Homo sapiens: one gene and its partners. The protein of the gene in region 1 purifies or fractionates together with the protein of each later gene. This does not show direct contact. Each region holds a gene or a part of one and is shown in the gene's direction. Other genes may lie near its edges.

Evidence for each region.
Region 2: the proteins of CARNMT1 (region 1) and MAP7 purify together in Homo sapiens (affinity purification with mass spectrometry; 3 studies listed by BioGRID and IntAct, with this or other methods). This does not show direct contact.
Region 3: the proteins of CARNMT1 (region 1) and KLHL7 purify together in Homo sapiens (affinity purification with mass spectrometry; 3 studies listed by BioGRID and IntAct, with this or other methods). This does not show direct contact.
Region 4: the proteins of CARNMT1 (region 1) and TAB1 purify together in Homo sapiens (affinity purification with mass spectrometry; 4 studies listed by BioGRID and IntAct, with this or other methods). This does not show direct contact.
Region 5: the proteins of CARNMT1 (region 1) and ZBTB25 purify together in Homo sapiens (affinity purification with mass spectrometry; 4 studies listed by BioGRID and IntAct, with this or other methods). This does not show direct contact.
Region 6: the proteins of CARNMT1 (region 1) and KCTD3 purify together in Homo sapiens (affinity purification with mass spectrometry; 3 studies listed by BioGRID and IntAct, with this or other methods). This does not show direct contact.
Region 7: the proteins of CARNMT1 (region 1) and BRIP1 purify together in Homo sapiens (affinity purification with mass spectrometry; 4 studies listed by BioGRID and IntAct, with this or other methods). This does not show direct contact.

What each region holds. Positions count from the first base shown.
Region 1 is NC_000009.12:75,011,294-75,014,793, reverse strand, and holds part of CARNMT1 (carnosine N-methyltransferase), read left to right. Parts: intron 1-3,500.
Region 2 is NC_000006.12:136,540,423-136,543,922, reverse strand, and holds part of MAP7 (ensconsin), read left to right. Parts: intron 1-3,500. UniProt on the Homo sapiens protein: Microtubule-stabilizing protein that may play an important role during reorganization of microtubules during polarization and differentiation of epithelial cells. Associates with microtubules in a dynamic manner.
Region 3 is NC_000007.14:23,164,785-23,168,284, forward strand, and holds part of KLHL7 (kelch-like protein 7), read left to right. Parts: intron 1-913; coding exon 914-1,154; intron 1,155-3,051; coding exon 3,052-3,253; intron 3,254-3,500. UniProt on the Homo sapiens protein: Substrate-specific adapter of a BCR (BTB-CUL3-RBX1) E3 ubiquitin ligase complex. The BCR(KLHL7) complex acts by mediating ubiquitination and subsequent degradation of substrate proteins. Probably mediates 'Lys-48'-linked ubiquitination.
Region 4 is NC_000022.11:39,406,280-39,409,779, forward strand, and holds part of TAB1 (TGF-beta-activated kinase 1 and MAP3K7-binding protein 1), read left to right. Parts: intron 1-3,500. UniProt on the Homo sapiens protein: Key adapter protein that plays an essential role in JNK and NF-kappa-B activation and proinflammatory cytokines production in response to stimulation with TLRs and cytokines.
Region 5 is NC_000014.9:64,493,839-64,497,338, reverse strand, and holds part of ZBTB25 (zinc finger and BTB domain-containing protein 25), read left to right. Parts: intron 1-1,779; exon of another isoform or gene 1,780-2,096; intron 2,097-3,500. UniProt on the Homo sapiens protein: May be involved in transcriptional regulation.
Region 6 is NC_000001.11:215,573,804-215,577,303, forward strand, and holds part of KCTD3 (BTB/POZ domain-containing protein KCTD3), read left to right. Parts: coding exon 1-36; intron 37-263; exon of another isoform or gene 264-269; coding exon 270-315; intron 316-2,097; coding exon 2,098-2,171; intron 2,172-3,500. UniProt on the Homo sapiens protein: Accessory subunit of potassium/sodium hyperpolarization-activated cyclic nucleotide-gated channel 3 (HCN3) up-regulating its cell-surface expression and current density without affecting its voltage dependence and kinetics.
Region 7 is NC_000017.11:61,780,029-61,783,528, reverse strand, and holds part of BRIP1 (Fanconi anemia group J protein), read left to right. Parts: intron 1-2,523; coding exon 2,524-2,689; intron 2,690-3,127; coding exon 3,128-3,268; intron 3,269-3,500. UniProt on the Homo sapiens protein: DNA-dependent ATPase and 5'-3' DNA helicase required for the maintenance of chromosomal stability. Acts late in the Fanconi anemia pathway, after FANCD2 ubiquitination.

The sequences.
Region 1 (3,500 bases):
CTTACTGCAACCTCCGCCTCCTGGGCTCAAGTGATTCTTGTTCCTCAGCCTCCCGAGTAGCTGGGATTACAGACACCTACCACTATGCCTGGCTATTTTAACTATTTTGAAATAACTTTAAAATTACAGATAAATTGCATGAATTATATGGAGACCTCCTGAATTCACTTATACTTTTTACTTGAATTCACCAGTTTTTAACATTTTGCCACATTTGCTTTTATTGTTTCCTCTTCCGTCTTCCCTCCCTCCCTCTTTCCCTTGCATTATGTATGTGTGTGTCTGAAACCATTGAGAAAATTTAACCCTGAATACTGTTAGGTAATTTACAGTCTATATTCAAGTTTCATAATTTACTGTGGTTCATACTGATAACTCTTAATTCCAGTCCCAACTCTATAGGGTTATCCTTGGTTTTCCCTCTTTTCTGTATCTGTTTACCTCACTTCCAACAACATCAATACGTTTACTTATTCGCCCAGTTGTCTACAGTACACACAGAATGGTTTCAGAATTGCTTCATCCATACCTCTGTGAAAAAGAAACCTACTAAAAGGAGTTCGGGATTTGCTAATAGTTATTTTTCCCTTAGACTAAGGTTGTATAGTGAATTTATTCTTTGCAGTTTACCCAAATTAGCTCTCCCTTTAATCTTCAGCCTCCTGGTGTTTTATTCCCTCCCTTTATTCTATACCCCATTTGGATAATCAGTATCATTGGCATCTTGTTTATTCATCCTTTTATTCTTGGGGTTTTTTTTTTTTTTTTTTTTTAAGTAAGTGGATGTGGTTTTTTTTTTTTTCTCTCTCTCTCTCTTTTTTTTGACACAAAGTGTTGCTCTGTCATCCAGGCTGTAGTGCAGTGGTGTTATCGTAGCTCACTGTAGCCTTAAACTCCTGGGCTCAAGTACTCCTCCCACCTCAGCCTCCCAGCTAATTTTTTAGTATTTTTTGTAGAGGCAGGGGTCTTGCTATGTTGAACAGGCTGGTCTTGAACTCCCGGCCTCAAGTGATCCTCCTGCCTCTGCCTCCCAAAATATTGGGATTACAGGCATAAACCACTGTGCCTGGCCTTTTTGTTTTTCTTTATAATTACCCTCTTTGGTCATCCACAAAAGATAATATAGCATACATGTATTCTGTACCTTGCTTTTTTCACTTAGTGTATCCTGGAAATAGCTATGCTGTCATTTCACAGAGATCTTCAGTCATTTTTTTTTTTCCCAGCTGAAGATTACTCTGTTATTTGGATGTATCATAGTTTATTCAACCAACTTTCTCCTACGTTAGGTTATTTAGGTAGTTGGCAGTATCTAGCAATTATACATAATGCTAAAATTAATAACTTTATGCATATGTATTTTTATATTATTGGAGGTATAACTTTAATTTTTATTTAAAAATAACTTTATTTGATAATCTTTTAAAAAATCCATAATATAATTTCAGAAGAAATTTCTCCTGATTTCCCCTTACCACATTTTAGAATATAAATAATGCAGAAGGATCTGTTTATTTTTCTTTGCAGCAGTTCCTGACCAGTCCATGGTGAGAAATATCAGTTGGCACTTAATTGCACCATAATAAATTATACCCAGTAAGGATGATTTTTCAGGTCTCCGTGCATGGGTTATGGAGATTTTCCATCATGCATCTTTTTCTGCTGCAATTATAGGGCCTGTATATACTTATGAGAATTGGAGCTAATATCAAAGACAAAAAATTGTGGGGCCCTTTCCCCGACAGTCCACCAAGTTTTGAGGAAAAGAAGTATCAGTTGAAATAGCTCTGAAGAATTTATCTTCCTGGTTCTGATAAGTAGATCTCATGGTCTCTGATTTAACAGTACATATAGATAAGATTTTTTTTTTTTTTTTGAGACGGAGTCTTGCTCAGTCGCCCAGGCTGGAGTGCAGTGGCACGATCTCGGCTCACTGCAACCTCCGCCTCCCGGGTTCACGCCATTCTGCTGCCTCAGCCTCCCGAGTAGCTAGGACTACAGACGCCCGCCACGACGCCTGGCTAATTTTTTTTTTTATATTTTTAGTAGAGACGGGGTAGATAAGATTTTTTAAAAACACAGTGTAACAACTTGAACTTTGCCGTGCAAACTCTGTAACCCACTGTCAACATAGTTCTGTATTTGGGCATGGATCATTCTGAAGAAAAATGGAGCTCAAATTTTTAAAAAATTCTTAAAACTTGAAGACCTGTCCAGGTGTGGTGGCTCACGCCTGTAATCCCAGCACTTAGGCTGAGCCGGATGGATCACTTGAGGTCAAGAGTTCGAGATCAGCCTGGCTAACATGGCGAAACCCCGTCTCTACTAAAAATACAAAAATTAGCTGGGCATGGTGGTGCACACCTGTAATTCTAGCTACTCAGGAGTCTGAGGCAGGAGAATTGTTTGAACCTGGGAGGCAGAGGTTGCAGTGAGTCAAGATCATGCCACTGAACTCCAGCCTGGCCAGTAGAGCAAGGCTATCTCAAAGAAAAAAAAAAAAAAAAAACCAAAAACTTGAAGACCCTCAGTACCTGGGCTCTTAACTGACCCAACATATTAATGTACATTCAGAGCTCAGATATAAGTGATATTCAGTCACATCTCAAATGGTCAAGGATATATAGTGTTTGGCATCAAGACCTTGAAGCTCACATTTGCTAGCAGAAAAATCTCAGTTCCTTTCATCGGGTATGTGTGCAGGAGAGTATCTTTAATTTAAATTCTTAGAAGTGGGATTGCTGCATAACACATTGATTTCAGTTGCTATGGGTCAGGAGTCTGGGCTTGGCTTAACTGGTTCTTCTGTGTAGGAGCTTACAAGGCAGCAATCCACGTGTCTGCCGGGCTGTGTTTTCACCTGGAGACTTGACTGGGGAAGAATCTGTCACTCATATTTCATTTTGTTTAATTGCAGTTGTAGTAGTGAGGCAGAATTGTTTTCACTGTGGCTGTAGGACTGAGGGTCTTAGCTGCTCTCTGTTTGTCAGTTGGAAGCCTGCCTCATCTCCTAGAGGCAACCCACAGTTCCTTGTCTTTCCCAAAAGGACCACTTCATCAAGCCAGCAAGGAGGGTGTCTAGATCAAGCAAGCTGTCAACCGTCTTACAGTGTTGAACAGTCACAGAGCTGGGTGTCAAGGCTCATGTCTATAATCCCAGTACTTTGAGAGACTGAGATGGGAGAATCACTTGAGGCCAGGAATTCAAGACCAACTTGGGCAATGTAGTGAGACCTCATCTCTACTAAAAATTTGAATATTAGGTGAGGTGGCATGCACTTGTATAGTCCTGGCTACTCTGGAGGTGGATGCCTGGCAAGGGGATCATTTGAGCCCAGGAATTCAAAGTTGCAGTGATAAGATTACTGCATTCCAGCCTGGGCAACAGAGCAAGACCCTGTCTCAATAATAATAATAATAATGACAATCACAGGAGGGACATCTCATCACCTTTGCCATATTCTGTTGGGTAGAAACAAGACATGGGGACCAGGAGGTAG
Region 2 (3,500 bases), on another chromosome or scaffold:
TGCAAAAAAAATTACGGATTTTCTTTTATTTTCTTTTTTTAGTTTTGTTGACTGTATAGGTAATGTAAGCACCACCGTTAACATTATCCCAAAGAGTCCTCTGCCTCCAACCTAAATTCCCTAATGCTGCACCTTTGTAGTGAGACTCTCTTCCTACACCTAACCCCTGGCAACCACTGATCTGTTTACCATCTTCCTAGTTTTGCCTTTTCCAGAATGTCATAAAAGTGGAATCATACATTGTGTAACCTTTTTTTCTTTTTTTTTGTGAGACGGAGTTTTACTCTTGTTGCCCAGGCTGGAGTGCAATGGCACAATCTCAGCTCACAGGAACCTCCTCCGCCTCCTGGGTTCAAGCGATTCTCCTGCCTCAGCCTCCCGGATAGCTGTGATTACAGGCATGTGCCACCATGCCCGGCTAATTTTGTATTTTTAGTAGAGATGGGGTTTCTACTAAACCCCATCAGGCTGATCATGAACTCCTGACCAAAGGTGATCCACCCGCCTCAGTATCCCAAAGTGCTGGGATTACAGGCGTGAGCCGCTGCACCCAGCCCCACATTGTGTAACCTTTTGAGTCTGAATTTTTCACCTGGCATCATGTTTTTGAGATTCAGGCACACTGTTGTGCATGTTAGGATGTGGTACATCCTTTTTCTTGATGAAGTAGTTTGCCATTGTATGGAAGTATCACAGATGGTTTATCAAAGAACATTTGAGTTGTTCCCGGGTTTTGGCAATTATGAATAATGCTGCTGTAAACACTTACCTACAGGTTTTTGTGTGAGCATAGTTTTCATCTATTCTGGGTAAATACCTAGGAGTGGGATTGCTGATTCATGTAACTGTATGTTTAACTTTATAAGAAATGGCCAAGCTTTTCCAGAGCAACTCTACGGTTTTACATTCTTACAAACAGTGTATGTGAGTTCTGGTTGCCCTGCATCCTCACTAATACTTAGTATCGTTAGTTTTGTTTGTTTTTAAAACTTTAGCCATTCCACCAAGTTCTTTGAGTAAAGCAATGTAATCACCTCAAAGTAAAATAGTGCCTTTTTAATGCTAACCCATGCTCACATGAATTAGGAAAGCCTGGAGGTGGTGTTGATCCCAGAGCCTAGGTATAATACGGAATTTATATTTGACTCTAATATCTTTATTCTCCTTCATTCTTTTTTCCCCACAGTATTTCTTTTTTTTTTTAATTTTAACACACCATTGCTTGCTTGAAGAGCCATAGTATCTCTTATTTCCTGTGGAGTATGCATTCTGAAGTTGATTATAGACGGAAGTGCCATTATATAGCACATTCCCTGCCAATTCAAGTTCTCTCTTCCTCCTTAATGGTCTCTGTTCTAATCCCTTGAGATATGGCTTTCTAGAACTTGGAAATAACTTGTTTTGTTGTTAGAAAGCTAGACATATTGTTCATATACTTTGTTTATTATCCTGATTAATTCCTTATTGGAACATCTTATATTGTCAAACTGAATACTTACCAGTTCTCAGATACAGTGCTTTGTAAAGCCTTGATAGTCTGTCATTGGACGTTTCATCAGTTGCTCATGGTCTAAGGTTCTGTAAGCTAAATGTGAATGGTATTTAGGCTTATACTTTTTTATAAAATTCAGTTTTAGGGTTTGTCTCGTTCTCTAGCGGTGATGTTGTCTACCTCTTTACTATCTTAGCTCTTGTAAAACTCTGAGTTACGGTTGTTGACACATTTAAATGGCATTTGGATTTTCTCTTCAGTAATTATTATTCTCTTTAGTATCTTTTTAATTTGAGAAATAGCCTGTTGAAAAAGATCTGTAAGATTTTTTTATTAGGTACCACTTTGAAATTTTTTTTAAATATATTTTTTGAGACAGAGTCTCGCTGTGTTGCCCAGGCTGGAGTGCAGTGGCACGAACTTGGCTCACGGTAACCTCTGCCTCCCAGGTTCAAATGATTCTTGTGCCTCAGCCTCCCGAGTAGCCGGGACTACAGGTGCCCACCACCATGCCCAGCTAATTTTTGGATTTTTAGTAGAGAGGGGGTTTTGCCGTGTTGGCCAGGCTTGTCTTGAACTCCTGAGCTCAAGCGATCTGCCCAACTCAGCCTCCTAAAGTGCTGGAATTACAGGTGGGAGCCACCACTCCCGGCTCCACTTTGAATTTTGATTTGAAGAGTAATATATAGTATTTGACACTGAGAAAAACTGCATTCAACTGTTCTTCATCCTTGATGCTCCTATAGAAATAGTTGTGAAAAAAAGAATCATGAGAAAGTGCCAAGGAGGATTGACACACCTGACCAGATGGCACAGAGGAGCACGGGGTATAAAACAATGCAGGGAGGAGGCTGGGAGCAGTGCACTTGGCATATGTGAGCTGCACTTCATAGGCACTGTTAGTAAATGATATATCTTTAAGTTTAGAGTATTGAGATTTGGGGTATCTTAAAATTTCTAATTCTGTGACTTTTAAAATTAAATGATATGTAAGCTTCCTTTTTGGAGTTGGCTTTCTAGTAAAGAGAACTATCCTTCACTATGGCATAACCTCTGAGTATAAAACTCATTTCCCCAACACTGTTGAATGTAGAAAAGTTCTCTAGGATCAGTTTAAATGTCAAGGTGAAGTTCTAGAAAGGAGCCCTTCCTTAGCACCTCCACCCCTCATCATGAAGCCTACTTGGTGGCAATAACATGCATAATAATTGGCTGTAAGATGTGTTCCTGTAGCAAAACTTTTGGCTGCTTCTCAAGATTCGAATCTGGGCTTCTGGTTCTCAGAAGCTCCTGACCCAAGCCTTTGGGGTGGCAGGCGCACCAGACAGGACCTGGTTGCTTACTTCTTGCATTCCAGCTGGACTGGTTTCTATTCATGGTAGATGCTCCAAATTAGTTCAGTGACAACTTCACCACAGGCGTGGTGGGTTCATTTAAATATGGGTCACTCCTTGACCCCAAGGTTATGTTGTTGAAATGATTATTGCGCCCATGTGCTGGAGTATCATTGATTCACATCATTGGCTCTCAATCTTGGCAGTGATTAAAAATCACCTGGGGACCATTTAAATATCAGGATGCCCAGGTGGCATCCAAGGTAATTATCTGAGAATCTTGCAGGATGGGAGTCAGGTGGCAGTGTTTTTAAAATTCCCCAGATGGTCTGGTGTGCAATCAGTGCTGAGAACTAATGATTCAGAACCATTTCCTATTGTATTCCCTTCCATTTGACTATTGTGGTGTGTGGTGTCAAGTGTGTGCACCTTGCTTATGGAAACCACATGGAAAATCGTAATAGCAATTGCCCTAAGTCTAGTGAGTTTACTCAGGTTGTCTCTTATTTTGCCCCAGGACTTTTTTGAAGGAAATATAGATGTGAATACAGTTATGAGTACAATTGAATAGCTAAGTATGCACACATATACTCAGTGTCCACATGTACGCACATTTCTGTATGAATATGTGCAGTGAGACAAAATACCATTCAGCTTTTGTTTTGACTTTGCCT
Region 3 (3,500 bases), on another chromosome or scaffold:
GGTTATCAGTCAGATTTTCTCGAAGGAAACTCAATAATCACACATAGTGCTTTCCTTGGTGAGATTGGGAATGGTATGAATTCCTATCTGACCCTGATTATTTTCAGAAAATAGCAGGAACGCTGTAGCTTCCTATCTCAAAAAAAGAGAGGGTCCAAGATACTATAACTTTAGGGGCATCCCCCCATGCACATACATGGAAGGGCGGCACAAGCATTCTTCGATGCTATCAAACATAGTGAAGAAACAGATGCTGTGAACAGCCCTTACTGTCAAGTACTGATAGGTGTGTATTTCTAATCATTGGGGTGAAAAGTGAGTATCCAGAGTACTTAGAAGAGATTACTCAAGTATTTCCTTATAAACATCAACAGTTTTAAAGTCCAGCTGACTACATTGGCTCAACTCAATATAGAAAATTAATAAAGAAGTCCACAAAATACCTTCTGGCTTTAGACTATCAGTAGGATAATGGCAATTTGAGCTTCATATTATCCATTGATTACTTATATCACACTATATATCTGGCAGGGAAGGGATGGAGACCTTTACATTTGAAAAAGCTTTTTTAAAAAATAAAACAACTTATTTTAGAATCTTCTTGTATTGTCTTCAATAACAGAAGGAATAGAAGACAGGGTGGTGATGGTATATCCAAATATATTTAAGTTTATTTTAGAGCCAGAAAGGACCCAAAGCAGTCATGTGCCTGCCTTTTGCCCTCCGCCCCATCTAATCAACATTCTGCAGAAACCACACAAGATTAAATTGGTAATAGTCTCAAGCCAAACATTTGTATGTGTAGTCTAATAAATTAACATATTCTTATATGTTTTTTGACTGTATCTTTGCATTGTCCTTTTCAGTTATATTTTTTTCCTTACTGAAAGCTTCCCATCCTTTTCTGCTACAGGATTATAGCTGGACAGACATCCGCTGCCCCTTTGAAAAACGAAGAGATGCAGCATGCGTGTTTTGGGACAATGTAGTATACATTTTGGGAGGCTCTCAGCTTTTCCCAATAAAGCGAATGGACTGCTATAATGTAGTGAAGGATAGCTGGTATTCGAAACTGGGTCCTCCGACACCTCGAGACAGCCTTGCTGCATGTGCTGCAGAAGGCAAAATTTATACATCTGGAGGTTCAGAAGTAGGTAAGGACTTCTTAAGTATTTTGGTTTGGGGCATATGCTTTAAAGCCAAGTATCTTGGCTTTCATATTTAAATAAACAGCTGGTATTATTTGTCCAGATACTTTCTTGGTAATTTAAATATGTGTTTGTCACATTTTAGAGCTCATCTCCCTGAAGGTTTATGTCGTTGCTTTACAAACCATTAAATTACAGAACTTTAGCTTCCTAGATTAATGGCCCATTTTTTTTATCATAATGAAGCATTAGTTGACATTATCTGAATTATAGTTCTAAATTATTTGGGCTGCATAATATTATTTGTTTTAAAGATTTCAGAGTTCAACTTATAGACTCTTTAAGAACTCGTTACTATATTCAGGCTTTTAAAATTTGTATTATATTTGCTTTCTTTTTATTAGAAAAAAGAATGCTCTTTTTCATTTGTTTTATTCTTTAAGTTTTTAATGACTGTAGTGGTATTTATGCTTATTGAGCAGAATGGGATGTGGGTGTGGATATAAAAACCTTATTGGATAGTGTGTTAGTGTCCAGTAGTGCTCTTTTTCTAAATGAATAATTTTTCTAAATGAATAGGTGCAGGCTAGATACATAATAGCTTTTGTATGCTTTCATTTTCAAGTAATTTCTTTAGCTTAAATAATGGGCTAATAAAGAAAACTAGGGAGACCGTAAATGGTTATACTTTTGGTCTGCATACTTATGTTTTTACCCTCAACTATATGTCAAATGAATACAAGAAAAATCACTATTTCCTAAATGTAACCATTTCCTCTCTTTAAAAGCATTCTTCACAGACTGTTATAATGTAGAATATTTCAAATACAATAAATCCTAAAGATGATAGACGGTAACTGTTCTGTGGTACTGCAGATAACTTCATTTCTTCAGCCTTTGCTAAGTGTGTTTTTAGCTTAAGTAGTAGTTTTTTTTTAATCTACTATATACTATATATTTTCCTATAGTGTCCACCCACTGAACCTACCAAATCAGGAATGTTTAAAAAGTTAAAAATAAGTTATTTTTGGTCATGACCATTGCTTCTTCTAGTTGTTATTTTCTGATCTTTACTTTTCACAGACCTTAGTTGCAACGCAGAATTATAAAGGTGTTGTCGTTTTTAAATCATTTGATATTAGCCCAGAATGGTGGGAGATGAGAAATAGTTTGGTAACTTCTAAAATTTTTTGTCCTTGGGAAGGAAAAAAAAAAGCACTTAAACTTTAATAGTATCATTTCTAAAATTTTTTATTGAACTCCTACAGTGTGTAGAAGTTTCAAAACATGATGAATGTATGTTTTGCCTTTAAATTGTGTAATCAAAATACATCAGAAATATACATCAATATTTTGAGAATATACTCAAGCAGGGACCAGTGTGATTTCAGGATATACCACACTAACTGAGAATAGTTAGGAAATATAATTTTGTTAATGGTGCTGTAGCTATTCCAGAATATTAAATAAGAATATGATCAGATAGTAGTTTTCATATTTTAAGGTATGGGTCTACCATCTGTAAGGAACTATTATGCTTTTCCACTTTATATAAACATTTGAAGTATGGATAATTCCCGTCATGCATAATGGGGCTTGAAGACATATATAAGGCTTCTTATTTAATTTTTCTTTTGAAATCAAATTTATTTTTCTAAAGTTTAATTACCAATAAATAAGTATTTCCAACAGATCCTTTTAAGGATGTTTTCCAGGGTCTATACAAACAGGATTATTAGCGTTTTCTTAAACTATTCCTACACTTTGTTGTTGTTGATTGAGTATGAAAATGGCCGTATGACCCTAAATTCTTCCTTCCTTAACTAATAAGATCTACAGTCAGTTCTTTCCAAACCCCCGCACACACTAAAGTTAAGCATGATGGGGCCTTTTTCTTTTACAGGAAACTCAGCTCTGTATTTATTTGAGTGCTATGATACGAGAACTGAAAGCTGGCACACAAAGCCCAGCATGCTGACCCAGCGCTGCAGCCATGGGATGGTGGAAGCCAATGGCCTAATCTATGTTTGTGGTGGAAGTTTAGGAAACAATGTTTCTGGGAGAGTGCTTAATTCCTGTGAAGTTTATGATCCTGCCACAGAAACGTATGTATCTATTTAAAATTTATTTTACAGTTAACTGTATTCTATAAGCTCTGTAGGAGATGTCAAAAGACCAGAGGAACCCAACAGAAGAATTTTGTCCTTGAGTGAAGAGTGTATATAAACTTTTGAGTGTGCTAGGGTCAGTGGCATATTTATGACCTGGACCTTTCCCTTACACCAGAAATGGCTTGAACTTACACCCCATGGGAACCTCTTTCTTTCTGGTTCTGCGTGCAATAAATGCCTA
Region 4 (3,500 bases), on another chromosome or scaffold:
TCCCAGCTACTCCAGAGGCTGAGGCAGAGAATTGCTTAAACCTGGAGGGGCAGAGCTTGCAGTGAGCCAAGATCGCGCCACTGCACTCCAGCCTGGGCGACAGAGTGAGACTGTCACCAAAAAAAAAAAAAAAAAAAAAGGAATCATTTGAGTGAAAGATAGTTTCTTGAAGATGGTCAGTGGATGATTGAGGTTTGGGAATCATGGGCCTCTGGCCCTAGTTGGATTTGAGCAGTGCCTTTAGGGTAGATAGGACTTAAAAAGACAGAAAGGGACAGGCTTTGCCTTACCATGGGTACTTTTACATATGCTCTTTGGGTAATTTTTTTCTTACTCTTTCTTTATTTTTTTTTAATTTATTTTTTATTTTTGAGACGGAGTCTTGCTGTGTCGCCCAGGCTGGAGTGCAGTGGCGCCATCTCGGCTCACTGCAAGCTCTGCCTCCCGGGTTCACACCATTCTCCTGCCTCCGCCTCTGGAGTAGCTGGGACTACAGGCACCCACCACCACGCCCACCTAATTTTTTTGTATTTTTAGTAGAGACGGGGTTTCACCGTGTTAGCCAGGATGGTCTCAATCTCTTGACCTCATGATCTGCCCGCCTTGGCCTCCCAAAGTGCTGGGATTACAGGCGTGAGCCACTGCGCCCGGCCTCTGGTCACAGTTTTTTAGAGATTGTTTGGAACAGTGAGTAGAAGGCCTTGTCTGTACAAGATACACAGCTGAGTGAGATTGTTAATCTGTCAAAGGGCAAAATTCAAAACTTTCGACAGTCTGGAAGGCTGGGATGAATGCATTAAGATGTAATTCGACTGATATAAATTTAGATTTAAAACAACCTTCTATAGTAGTTTGGCTGGGGGAGACAGACATGGTAGAAACTCACAGGAAAAGGACTTTGTTATTTTACATTACATAGAGGCTAGATGCTCATCTTCTCTTGGGTATATGAAAGCTGTTGATTTGCATACTTTGATTTTCTATCCTGCCGCCTAACTGATTTCTTTTTCTGTTTGCATTAGTTTTTCATTGATTCTTTAGGGTTGCCAGGCGTACTGTCCTATCAACTGCAAATAGAAATGACTTCTTTCCCGGTTTTTATGCTCTCATTCTTTACTCTGTCTAACTGCCTGGGCTAACACCTCCAGTTCTGTGTGAAGTAATAGAGTGGGCAGCCTTGCTATGGCCCTGATCATTTGTTGTTGTTTTGTTTTTTTTTTTTGAGAGGGAGCCTCACTCTGTCTCCCAGGCTGGAGTGCAGTGGCGTGATCTCGGCTCACTGCACGCTCTGCCTCCCGGGTTCCAGCGATTCTCCTTCCTCAGCTTCCCGATAGTAGATGGGACTACAGGCGTCTGCCACCACGCCCGGCTAATTTTTTGTATTTTTAGTAGAGACGGGGTTTTGCTGTGTTAGCCAGGATGGTCTCGATCTCCTGACCTCGTGATTCGCCGGTCTCGGCCTCCTAAAGTGCTCAGATTGCAGGTGTGAGCCACCGTGCCCAGCCTAATTTTTTGTATTTTTAGTAGAGACGGGTTTTCACCATGTTAGCCAGGATGGTCTCAATCTCTTGACCTCGTGATCTGCCCGCCTCAGCCTCCCAAGGTGCTGGGATTACAGATGTGGGCCACCATGCCCAGCCCTATGGCCCTGATCTTAATGAAGTGTTCCCCACTGAGTAAGTTGCCAGCATTAGGGCTGAAGTATACAGAGTAGCATGTTCAGAAAGGAGCCATCAGTTTCTGTTTTCTGGAGTGTTTTTACCAAGAATGGACCAAGACTCCTTAGATAAACAATAGCACTAGTGTCCATACTTACTGACCCAAACACCATTTGCCAGTTTATAAAATAATAAATTCCAGAAATATTACTGCCTCAACATTATGAAAATCAGATTTCCTAAAAAAGTACTTAGCAGTGTTGAAATATCTAGACACTATTCACGGGTACTTAATGAACAAGGCACGTGCTCAGTAGATTGATTGCCGTCAGACACACAGTTTTTCTCATTTGGGAAAGTTAGTTATTCCCACATCAGCCAAATACAGCACAGCATACAGTGGTCAGTAGATCATCAGCTTACTCCTGGTCTCCTGTTGTGAAACGCTCTCAGATGAATTGTTCTTGTGCCATGACACACCAACGTGGCAAGTTCCTCAGTTGCCTGTTTGAGCTTGTTTCTTTCTTTACTTGTGGAAGACAATTTCACTGGCGTTTTTTGTTTTTGTTTTTGTTTTTTGAGACGGAGTCTCGCTCTGTCATCCAGGCTGGAGTGCAGTGGCGTGTGCGATCTCGGCTCTCTGCAACCTCCACCTCCTGGGTTCAAGCAATTCTTCTGCCTCAGCCTTCCGAGTAGCTGAGACTACAGGCGCTTGCCACCACACCCGGTTAATTTTTGTATTTTTAGTAGAGACAGGGTTTCACCATATTGGCCAGGCTGGTCTTGAACTCCTGACTTGGTGATCCACCCACCTCGGCCTCCCAAAGTGCTGGGATTACAGGATTGATCCACCGTGCCTGGCCTCACTGGCCTTTTTTAATAGTGTATGTCTAATGTGGAACAGACCCATAAGTTGCTTGGGTCTTATTTATTTGGCTGGGAAACTATGGATTTTTTTAGAAAGATTCAAGTCCTTGGAAGCCTGTGTCTGTCCCTTATGGGAATTAGATACTGGCAGAGGAGGTAACTGTGATTACAGCATCGAAGACAGGTTTTGCATTGTGGTGACACATTTGTGTTAATATTATTCATCTCATATGAGAGGATGAGTTCATCTTAATCTCATTTTTAATCACAGCCTTCTAGAAAATAGAAATATCTTTTCCTCCCATGCTTTAAAACACCTGTGGCACTTTGGGGTGCTAAATATTGACTTCTTTGGCCATCTTTTCAGGAGGAAGACATGGGATACTCCTGACTGGGTAGATGCTTTTGTATTTCTGCTTAACCTCATAATTAATTTCATTCCAGCTGGTGGCAGGAGACAGACTAGAAAAGGAGCTACCTTTGGAAGTATATTTGCCTGGTTATAGGAGACTTTTGTGAGCTCGCTGGAAATGAAAATATACTAAGCAGATCTAAGACATAGGGGATAATTGGCAACATTTATCAGTTACCTGAAGAATACTTAATTCACTGGTTATTAACTCATTCCCATGGCCCAGAGGCCTTGCACTGCCCTCCCCCCCAGGCACATACGTGCACACATATTTGCAAACACGGCATGGAGCGTCTTTCCCCTGTGCTCACTAGAGAGGCCACACCAGCCTTCTCGTGCTTCCGTAAACCTGACATGCTTTTTTCCATCTTAGGGTCTTTTTACGTTCCGCTCCCTCTGCCTGGAAGCCTCCTTCTCTGCCTTCTAGAAGGTCACTGCCCCATAGTCATTCAGGTCTGGCTCAGACGTCACCTCCCCAGAGAGGTCTGCTTTTCTGACCACTTCATCTAGAGGCCCCCACCGCCCATCACGCTGTGTCCCATTACCATGGTGTGTTTTCTTCC
Region 5 (3,500 bases), on another chromosome or scaffold:
AAAAAGTCTAGCTAATAATTTGCAGAGTAGGTTGTATTAGAAAATGTTCTAATAACTCAATGGAATGGGGCTATTGATTTGAAGTAAAATCTGGTATATTACAACATCAAAGATCTCCTATTATGCAAAACAAGTTTGAATGCACCTCATGTGTACTTGGTGTTTTTTTTTTAATAGATTTTAATTTGTTTCATTTTATACACTTGAAAAGTTTACTCCCTTATTTGATTCAACATATTTGCAAAATCTGCCAACAGTGTAAATGTTGAAAGTTCTAGATGGGGTTTTGAAGAAAGGGCCCTGGGTTTAAACTCAGTCTTGATGTATTATCAGCACCATTTAATAGCTAGTTGTTTGACTTCAGGTATGTTTCCTGCCTTCTCTGAGCCTGTGGTTTCTCAGCCATAAAATAGAGCTGATAGTACCTGCTCTACTACCTCACAAGATTTAAAAGAAAAAAAGATAGTGTAGGGCAGTGGTTCTCAAAGTGTAGTCCAAGGAGCCACTGGAGGTTTCATGGGTCAATAAGGATCTCCCTTATGTAAGAACAGATTCTCAATATACTTGAACCAAAACAAGAGATGACAACAGATTGAATGCAGAATCAGATAAGAGAGTCCAGCTGTATCTGTTAAAGCCAGATATTAAAGAGGATTGCAAAATGTAAATTAATATCACCCTTCTCACTTGTTTTTGAAAAATTTTTTAGGAAAAAATATGTTAATATGTAATGGGTTTATTGCTATTTTAAATATTTTAAAATTTCTTTTAATTTTGAATATAGTAAATATTGATAAATATAACCTATATAAACAACAGCTCTTCACAATCTCTAATACTTTTTTTTTGAGATGGAGTCTCGCTCTGTAGCCCAGGCTGGAATGCAGTGGTGTGATCTCGGCTCACTGCAACCTCTTCCTCCCAGGTCCCGGTTCAAACAGTTCTCCTGCCTCAGCCTCCCGAGTAGCTGGGATTACAGGCACACGCCACTGTGCCCAGCTTTTTTTTTTGTATTTTTAGTAGAGACGGGGTTTCACCATGTTGGCCAGGCTGGTCTTGAACTCCTGACCTTGTGATCCGCCTGCCTTGGCCTCCCAAAGTGCTGGGATTACAGGCGTGAGCCACCGTGACTGGTCTGTAATACTTTTTAGAGTGTGAGTGGATCTTGAGACCACAGCTTTTTAGAACTGCTGATAAACAGTAATGGTTGAGTAGGGCTGCTCTGCCTATGGAGTAGCCATTCTTTTATTTATTTTCTAATAAATTGCTTTCGTTTAAAAAGAACACAATGTTGGGGGAGGGGGTAATGGTTGAATAGTTCCTATCAGGACAGTTTCCTGCAGATAACTATAAACTTGATACACTTTTTTTTTTTTTCCTTTTGAGATGGAGTTTCGCTCTTGTTGCCCAGGTTGGAGTGCAGTAGCGTGATCTCAGCTTACCGCAACCTCTGCCTCCCAGGTTCAAGCAGTTCACCTGCCTCAGCCTCCAGAGTAGCTGGGATTACAGGCATGTGCCACCACACCCGCTAATTTTGTATTTTTAGTAGAGATGGGGTTTCTCCATGTTGGCCAGGCTGGTCTCGAACTCCCGACCTCAGGTGATCTGCCCGCCTCTGCCTCCCAAAGTTCTGGGATTACAGGCATGAGCCACTACGCCCAGCTGATAAAAGTTTTAAAAATTAATAGATGGCATTTGAGAATTACAAAAACTAGATTGAGGTCTGCAACTGGAAGAGGAGAACAGCAATGAATAAGCTTCTGTTTTTATGGCTTTTAGACTGGCATAAGGTCCCAGCTGGTGATATGAAGAGGTGGCTACAACTGTAATAACAACCTGTAATCTCTCTTGAAGAAAAGAGGACAGAGCTCACAGTGATCATGCAGCTGGAAAGTGCAGGAGAAAATCCTAGAAAGAATGTTGGAGTGGCAGAACCCCAAACACTGTTTATAAACTCTGCTTGAATTTCTTGCAAACCCCTCAACTGTACATGTGTGGAGCAGCCTCCAAACAGCACACTTAAGGCTAAAGGAGCAGAGATTTCAGCTGCTGTCCACCATAGGGGAGGCAGAACTTGGAGTTTAAGTCCAGCTAAGGTAATTGTCTGCAAAAAACAAAAACACAAACACTCTTTGGAAGAATATTACAGAATCTAGAGTGAATTGTATTAATCACAATACCTAGACTATAATCCAGAAACAATCACCCTAATCAGTGGAGACTGACCCCATAATTAGCCAAAGGTTGGATTTAGCAGAGAAGATTTAAAGCAGCAGCTATTATAACTATGCTCAAGGATGTAAAGCAAAATGTTGTATATGTGAACAAATAGGAAATCTCAGCAGAGAATTAGAAACTTTAAAAAAGAATGAAATGAAAATTTTACATCTGAAAATACAATATCTGAAACAATCTTGAATAGATTTAACAGATCAGATATGACAGATAAGTCATTTAATTTGAGGATAGATTAATAGAAATTATCTAATCTGAAGTAGAGAAATAAGTTATTGTATATGAAAGTTCTCTGTAAACTTCAGTGCTCTATGTAAGTTTCAGAGTTTATTACTCCAGGTTTCTTTCATATGTAAAGGGAAGAGGTATGTTTGGGTCTTCTGATCTGCAGCTTCCTTAATGTCCTGTCCTGTCATGTCTGTGTCTAAGCTTTATACCCTCTGGTTTCTTTATTTTTATTTTTTTATTTTTTTTTGAGACAGAGTCTCGCTCTGTTGCCCAGGCTGGAGTGCAGTGGATCTCAGCTCACTGCAACCTCTGCCTCCTGGGTTCAAGTGATTCTTCTGCCTCAACCTCCCAAGTAGCTGGGATTACAGGCATGTGCTACCACACCTGGCTAATTTTTGTATTTTGAGTAGAGACGGGGTCTCACCATGTTGTTCAGGTTGGTCTCAAACTCCTGGCCTCAAGTGGTCCACTCACCTTGTCCTCCCAAAGGGCTGGGATTACAGGCGTGGGCCACTGCGCTTGGCCTAGCCTCTGGTTTCTAATATCCCCTGCAGTCAGATATTTGGCCCTTGCTGCTTTCCTGTACTATTGTCAGAGGTTACCAGGAATCTTTTGGTCAGTACACTCGACATGTTTGTAATGGGCCTCACCCCCATGTTTCTCTTCAGTGTTTTGCACCATTGCCATCTCCTTTCTGCAAGGTCATTGCCTTTCCTCAATGACGATGTTTTCTTTTTTCTCCTCCTCTGTCTTATTTTGTCTTTTCTGTTTTCCAAAGATTCATTCTTAGCTTTTTTCCCTCTTATTTCATTCTACTTTTTAGTCTACTTTATTATTTTCATACTTGGTTACTTCAGCCTTGTCGTTTCAGAGGCCTCTTCTCCCTCTCTGGCTCTGCTCTCTCTAGAGCCCTGTCCTGCTTCTTGTCCCCGCTGATCACTAAACATTTCTACTTAGATACCTGGTAGACACTTGGAGCTCAGAGTGTCTGAAGTGAAACCCCTATTCTTCTTCTTCTTTTTTTTTTTTTTGAGGTG
Region 6 (3,500 bases), on another chromosome or scaffold:
AACTCTTATGTGGATTCCAGATTCTTTTTTTTCCAGGTATGTCTTATAATTCTTTAGTGTATATTTTAATACATTTATTTACCAAAATATAATAATGTTTGTCAGTTAAATTTTTTTTAATAAAAAAGGTTAACTCTTAAAATTATATATTTTTGAACTTGGAAGATAGATAACTTACTTTTAGTGGTCTTTAACATTTGGTAAAGAATTAGCACATTTGTTTATACTCAGATTTTAAAAACTAACTTTAGATTATTAATGACTTCCAGTTTGCTGAGTGGGAGAATTTCAACACTTCGAGATGAAACTGGTGCTGTGAGTATAATAATAATTGATACATATTCCTAAATTAATGCTTATAGTGCTTGGTCCTAACATATAGTTACTCTAAGAATATAGGAGAACTGATATTTTAATAATCACTGAATGAAAGTGGCATAATTTTATTTCTTGTCATATGTAGTTTTTTATAATCAGAGAAGATCCCTAAGTAGGGAATACTATATATGGCAATTTAAGTATTCATGATTAGAGAGATTGTAGGATATGAGCTTACATTGGCATTAGAAGAAATTTTTTTAGATCAATAATTGAAACTTTAACAGTAAGTGGATAAATGTAAATATTCTAATATTTTTATATTAGAATATAAGAGGTTAAATTAGTAAACTCCTACAGTTTTTTATTTTATTTTGGAGAATAACCTTGCGAATTTGTTTATACAGCATTGGTACAGTGAGGGAAGGAAAGAATTGTAAAGTTTCAGTGCAAAAAAATTGGTTTATCCATTTGGAGGCAACAAAGTGACCAATGGTATTTATTTGCTGTGGTGAGATTTGCAGATGAAATAAGGCAACAAATGCAGATATGTCCATGTGAAATTATAAAAAGTTATCAATAATAAGATCTCCACAAATCTGTGATGTCTCTTCGATTTTTGATGTGCTCTAATGAAAACAAAAGAAAATTTATAAAGCTTAGAAGAATCTCATTGATTGTATATATATAGTTGATCATAGTAGGAAGAGTTTTATTACTGGCTGCCATTTCCCTTTCTAATTGATTTACATAAGCTTTAAAAGATGTTCCGTTTTTATGGCCAGATCTTTTGTAAATGATTCAAAATAGGTGTTGGTATAAATTTCCATAAAAAGTTATCAATTATGGGCTGGGTGGGGTGGCTTATGCCTGTAATTCCAGCACTTTAGGAGGTCGAGGCAAGTGGATTACCTGAGGTCAGAAGTTCAAGACCAGCATGGCCAACATGGTGAAACCCCCTCTCTACTAAAAACAGAAAAATTAACCCGGCATAGTGGCAGGTGCCTCTAATCCCAGCTACTCAGGAGGCTGAGGCAGGAGAATTGCTTGAACTTAGGAGGTGGAGGTTGCAGTGAGCCCAGATCGTGCCACTGCACTCCAGCCTAGATGAGAGAGCAGGATGCTGTCTCAAAACAAACAAACAAACAAAAGTTACCAATTATGTATTTTACATTTTTAAGCAATTTGTTTTCCTCTTATGTATTCTGTGGTGCTTTAGTTTAAAAAAAAAAAATTGTCATTACCTTTCCCCAGCTCTGAAGGAAATTGAGATTAGTAAAAGTATTATGAGAATAGTATTCTTTTCCACTTTTGACAGCAGTGTGCAGTATTTACTTTTCTCAAGTACCCCTGTGTGCATTATTAAAGTACATTGTAGTTTTAATGATTGAACAGTATAAGAAAGTATTATTTATTCATGTTTTCGAAGTATTAATTGAATTCTAGACTGTTTCAGATAAAAATGTTTCCTCAGGTGTCACTTTTACCAAAGGTATCAATACAAGTGATTTTATTAGACAAGATTTTTTCTATGTATTAAAATATCAGTTTAATAATAACTATTCAGAGGAAGAAAAAGACACCATCTCAAGAAAAAGACACCATCTCATGAAATGCACACAGACTACATTCCAATTTTAGAAACATTAAAGTTTAAGAGTGGAAACAAGGAAATGTAGTATTTAAGTAATTAAGACTTCATTCCCTATTAGTGTTACAGATATTAAAGTTAAAAGATTAATTTGTAATTTGAAAATAAAACTGTTCTCTTTTTTACAGATATTTATTGATAGAGATCCAGCAGCATTTGCACCCATTTTAAATTTTCTTCGGACAAAAGAACTAGACTTAAGGTAAGAAATGCACTCTTTTTAAAGTAAATTCTTACTGATAAATATGTGTTTTTAATATGTTTTATGAAATAAAAGGTTTTTTTTGTTTGTTTTTTTTTTTCCTTGAGTTGCAGTCTTGCTCTGTTGCCCAGGCTGGAGTGCAGGAGTGCAGTGGCATGATCTCTGCTCACTGCAACCTCCGCCTTTCAGGTTCAAACAATTCTCCTGCCTCAGCCTCCCGAGTAGCTGGGACTGTAGGCACATGCCACCATGCCCGGCTGATTTTTTGTATTTTAGTAGAGAAGGGGTTTCACTGTGTTGCCCAGGCTGATTGCAAACGCCTGAGCTCAGGCAGTCTCCCCGCCTTAGCCTCCCAAAGTGCAGGGATTACAGGAATGAGCCACTACGCCCAGCCAGAAAAGGTTTTTTTTTTTTTACTAAGACTTTGATTAAAAGTTTCCTCACACTGAAACTGGATGTGGTGGTACACGCCTATAATCCCAGCTACTCTAGAGAAGAAGCTGAGGCAGGAGGATCCCTTGAGGCCGGGAGTTTGAGGCTGCAGTGAGTTATGATCATGCCTCTGGCCAGTACTGCTGTACTGTTAACACAAATAGTTTCGAAATAGAATAAGAAAGTTTGAAGCTTTTTTTTTTTGAGACTGAGTCTTACTCTGTCACCCAGACTCACTGCAATCTCCACCTCCCGGGTTCACGCCATTCTCCTGCCTTAGCCTCCCAAGTAGCTGGGACTACAGGCACCCGCCACCACACCCGGCTAATTTTTTTGTATTTTTAGTAGAGATGGGGTTTCACCGTTTTAGTCATGATGGTCTCCATCTCCTCACCTCGTAATCCACCCGCCTTGGCCTCCCAAAGTGCTGGGATTACAGGTGTGAGCCACCGCCCCCAGACACAAAGTTTTAAGCATTTTTAATGTTAAACTAGTCATAACCAGTTTCACAAATAAAAACAATTTAACATAGTAATTGTATATATTTATCAAGGCTGGGGAATATTTTTAAAATAAGGACAAATTACAACTGAAACCTAAGATGAATTATTAGTATTATAAGTTCTGAATCTTCCATTTTTTAAAAATTTTATTTCATGTTACTTAACTTTACTACTATGAAGTAGCATCATTTCATCTGGATAACATAGCCCTTCCCAAGGCTAGTCTTTTTTTTTTTTCTATTTTATTTGTTCAACAAATATTTATTACATAACTATTTTATACAAGCACTATGCTAGGCACTGTGAGGTATACAAACATAGATCAGAAATAGATCATGCTCGCAGGGAATTTATAGTGTAATTGGGGAGATTAAGATAGATATGTATAGAAATA
Region 7 (3,500 bases), on another chromosome or scaffold:
TACAACTCAGTGCCATTAAGTACAGTATATTTGCAATGTTGTACATTGTACTCATTTCCAGAGATTTCCAGAAATTTTTTATTATTCCAAATAGGAATTCTGTACCCATGAAATAATAACCCCTAGAGTCTTTCCCCTCATCACCTGCTAACCTGTATTCTATTTTCATCTTATGAAGTCCTTTCTAGGTATTTCACATAAGAGCGATCATACAATGTTTGTCTTTTTGTGTCTGGCTTATTTCAATTCATTTGGCACAGTGTTTTCAGAGTTCATTTATGTAGTAGCATATATCAGAATTTCATTCCTTTCTATGGCTGAATAATACTCCATTGTATGTATATACCACAATTTGTTAATTTATTCTTATGTTAATGGACATTTGGGTTGTTTTCATCTTTTGCCTATTGTAAACAATGCTACTATGAACGTTGGTGTACAAATATCTGAGTTCTGCTTTCAGTTCTTCTGGGTGTATATAAGTACCTAGCAGTGGAATTGCAGAATCATATGGTAATGCTGCATTTAACTTTTTGAGGACTCACCATACTGTTTCTCACAGCAACTGCATTATTTTCCATTCTCATTATCAATGCACAAGGGTTCCAATTTCTACACATCCTTGCCAACAGTTTATGTAGCAGCATATATCAGAATTGTTTTTGCTGACACTCGTTATTTTATTTTTTGTATAATAGCCATCCTAATAGGTATCAAGTGATATCATCTGGTTTTTATTTGTATTTCCTAATGACTAGAGAAGTTGAGAATCTTTTCATGTGCTTATTGGCCAATTGTATGTCTTTTTTTGGAGAAATATCTATTGAAGTCTTTTGCCCACTTTTGAATTATTGGGTTTTTTTGTTGTTGTTGTTGAGCTGTAGTTATTTAGATATTCTGGATGTCAGTCCTGTAAGAGATATATACTTTACAAATATTTTCTCTCATTCTGTGGGTTGTTTTTTCATTTATTCATAGTGTCCTTTGATGCAGAAAAGGTTTTTAATCTTGTTGAAGTCCAATTTATCTTTCTCTTTTCTTGTTGTTGCCTGTACTTTTAGTGTCACATCCAGTAAATCATGGCCAAATCTGATATGAAGATTTCCCCTATGTTTTCTTTTCCTTTTTTTTTTTTTTTTTCTGAGACGGGAGTCTCGCTCTGTCACCCAGGTTGGAGTGCAGTGGCGCGATCTCGGCTCACTGCAAGCTCAGCCTCCCGGGTTCATGCCATTCTCCTGCCTCAGCCTCCCGAGTAGCTGGGACTACAGGCGCCCGCCACTAAGCCCGGCTAATTTTTTGTATTTTCTAGTAGAGACGGGGTTTCACCGTGTTAGCCAGAATGGTCTCGATCTCCTGACCTCGTGATCCGCCCACCTCGGCCTCCCAAAGTGCTGGGATTACAGGCGTGAGCCATCGCACCCGGTCTCCCCTTTGTTTTAAGAGTTTTACAGTTTTTGGCTCCCAGTATTTTTATAAGATTCTCTCCACAGTTGTTAAGTTCCCAACTTTAATTTTGAGATCTAATCTCTCTAGGAGTGAAATGAATAAGGAAATACTATAGCGAAGACATGGTAGAGAATATCACATTTTACTTTTTTTTTTTTTTTTGAGATGGAGTCTTGCTCCGTCACCCAGGCTACAGTGCAGTGGCGCTATCTCAGCTCACTGCAACCTCCACCTCCCGGGTTCAAGTGATTCTCCTGCCTCAGCCTCCTGAGTAGCTGGGGTTACAGGCGACTGCCACCACACCTGGCTAATTTTTGTATTTTTAGTAGAGACGGGGTTTCACCATGTTGGCCAGGCTGGTCTCGAACTCCTGACCTCGTGATCCACCTGCCTCGGCCTCCCAAAGTGCTGGGATTACAGGTGTGAACCACCGCGCCTGGCCACATTTTATTATTTTTAAGCTTAACCATTTTCTAGATTCTTATTGAAAGCAGTTATACACTGGATGGGATCACAGATATCATCTGGTTCAGCACCTTCATTAAAAGTAGATGAAGGCTGAGACTCAGGTTTCAAAGGAATGTAAGAATTTTATAACTTGTTGCTAATACTTTAAAAACTTTCAGTAAAAATTATCCTTCTATTTTCTCATTTAATAAAAAAGTATAACCCACCTTTTAGTCTCTTTAACCATAATACTGTTTTCTATTTTGTAACTCATCATGTAGTAGAGCATGCAGAGAGCTCTGGACTGGGAGTTAGGAGGCCTGGATTTTAATTCTGCTTCTGCCATGACATATGTAATGTTTGAAAATGAGGTTAGGAAGTAGCTGATAAAAGATAGATGGTTAGATGATTTCTAATATTCCCTCTGAGAATCAGTTGATTCTATGATTAATGGCTTTATTAATATCAGAATTACTGAATTTAATTAATGGTAAGGAGAATGTTATTTTTGAATGGGAAGGTACCAGCTCTTTCAAATGAGTTTTAATGTAATCAGTTTTTATATTGTATGTAGCTGGGTCATAGGTTTTAAAAGTTTTGCCACTTAATTAGCACTTTCTTTGCATCTAGATTTGCAGATGATTATAAAATTGCGATTCAACAGACTTACTCCTGGACAAATCAGATTGATATTTCAGACAAAAATGGGTTGTTGGTTCTACCAAAAAATAAGAAACGTTCACGACAGAAAACTGCAGTTCATGTGCTAAACTTTTGGTGCTTAAATCCAGCTGTGGTAAGCTCATCATGTAAATGGAAATTTTGTCTTCTTGCTCAGTACCAGCATTTTAATAAATGTGGTTGACTCTTTTAAAGATAGTTGTTTGTTGTTGTTGTTGTTGTTGTTTTGAGGCAGGGTCTTGCTCTTCACCCAGGCTGGAGTGCAGTGGTGCAATCTCAGCTCACTGTAGCCTTGACCTTCCAGGCTCAAGCGATCCTCCCACCTTAGCTTCCCGAGTAGCTGGGACTATAGGCATGTGTCACCATGCCCGGCTAATTTTTGTATTTTTTGTAGAGACGGGGTTTCACCATATTGCCCAGGCTGGTCTCAGACTCCTAGACTCAAGCGATCTTCCTGCTTCAGCCTCCCAAAGTGCTGGGATTACAGGTGTGAGCCACTTTGCCCAGCCTCTTCTAAAGATAATTTTATTTATCTAATGTTGTTTTCTTTTAGGCCTTTTCAGATATTAATGGCAAAGTTCAGACCATTGTTTTGACATCTGGTACATTATCACCAATGAAATCCTTTTCGTCAGAACTTGGTGTTACATTTACTATCCAGCTGGAGGCTAATCATATCATTAAAAATTCACAGGTTAGTTGTTGTTTTTTTTTTTGGAAGGCCTTCAGTGTTTCTACTTCAATATAACTATGTAAACAAGTTAGAAGATACCTGAAGTGCCAGCAAGTAAATCTTGGTAGGAAATTCAACATTCCAGTTTTACAATAAAAGAAAATCTGTCAGCTACTTAATGATGTGTCAACAGAAGGAAATAATCCAGTCACTTGGGATGCAAAAGGCTGTATTTCAGCTTCTTCTTCTAAGT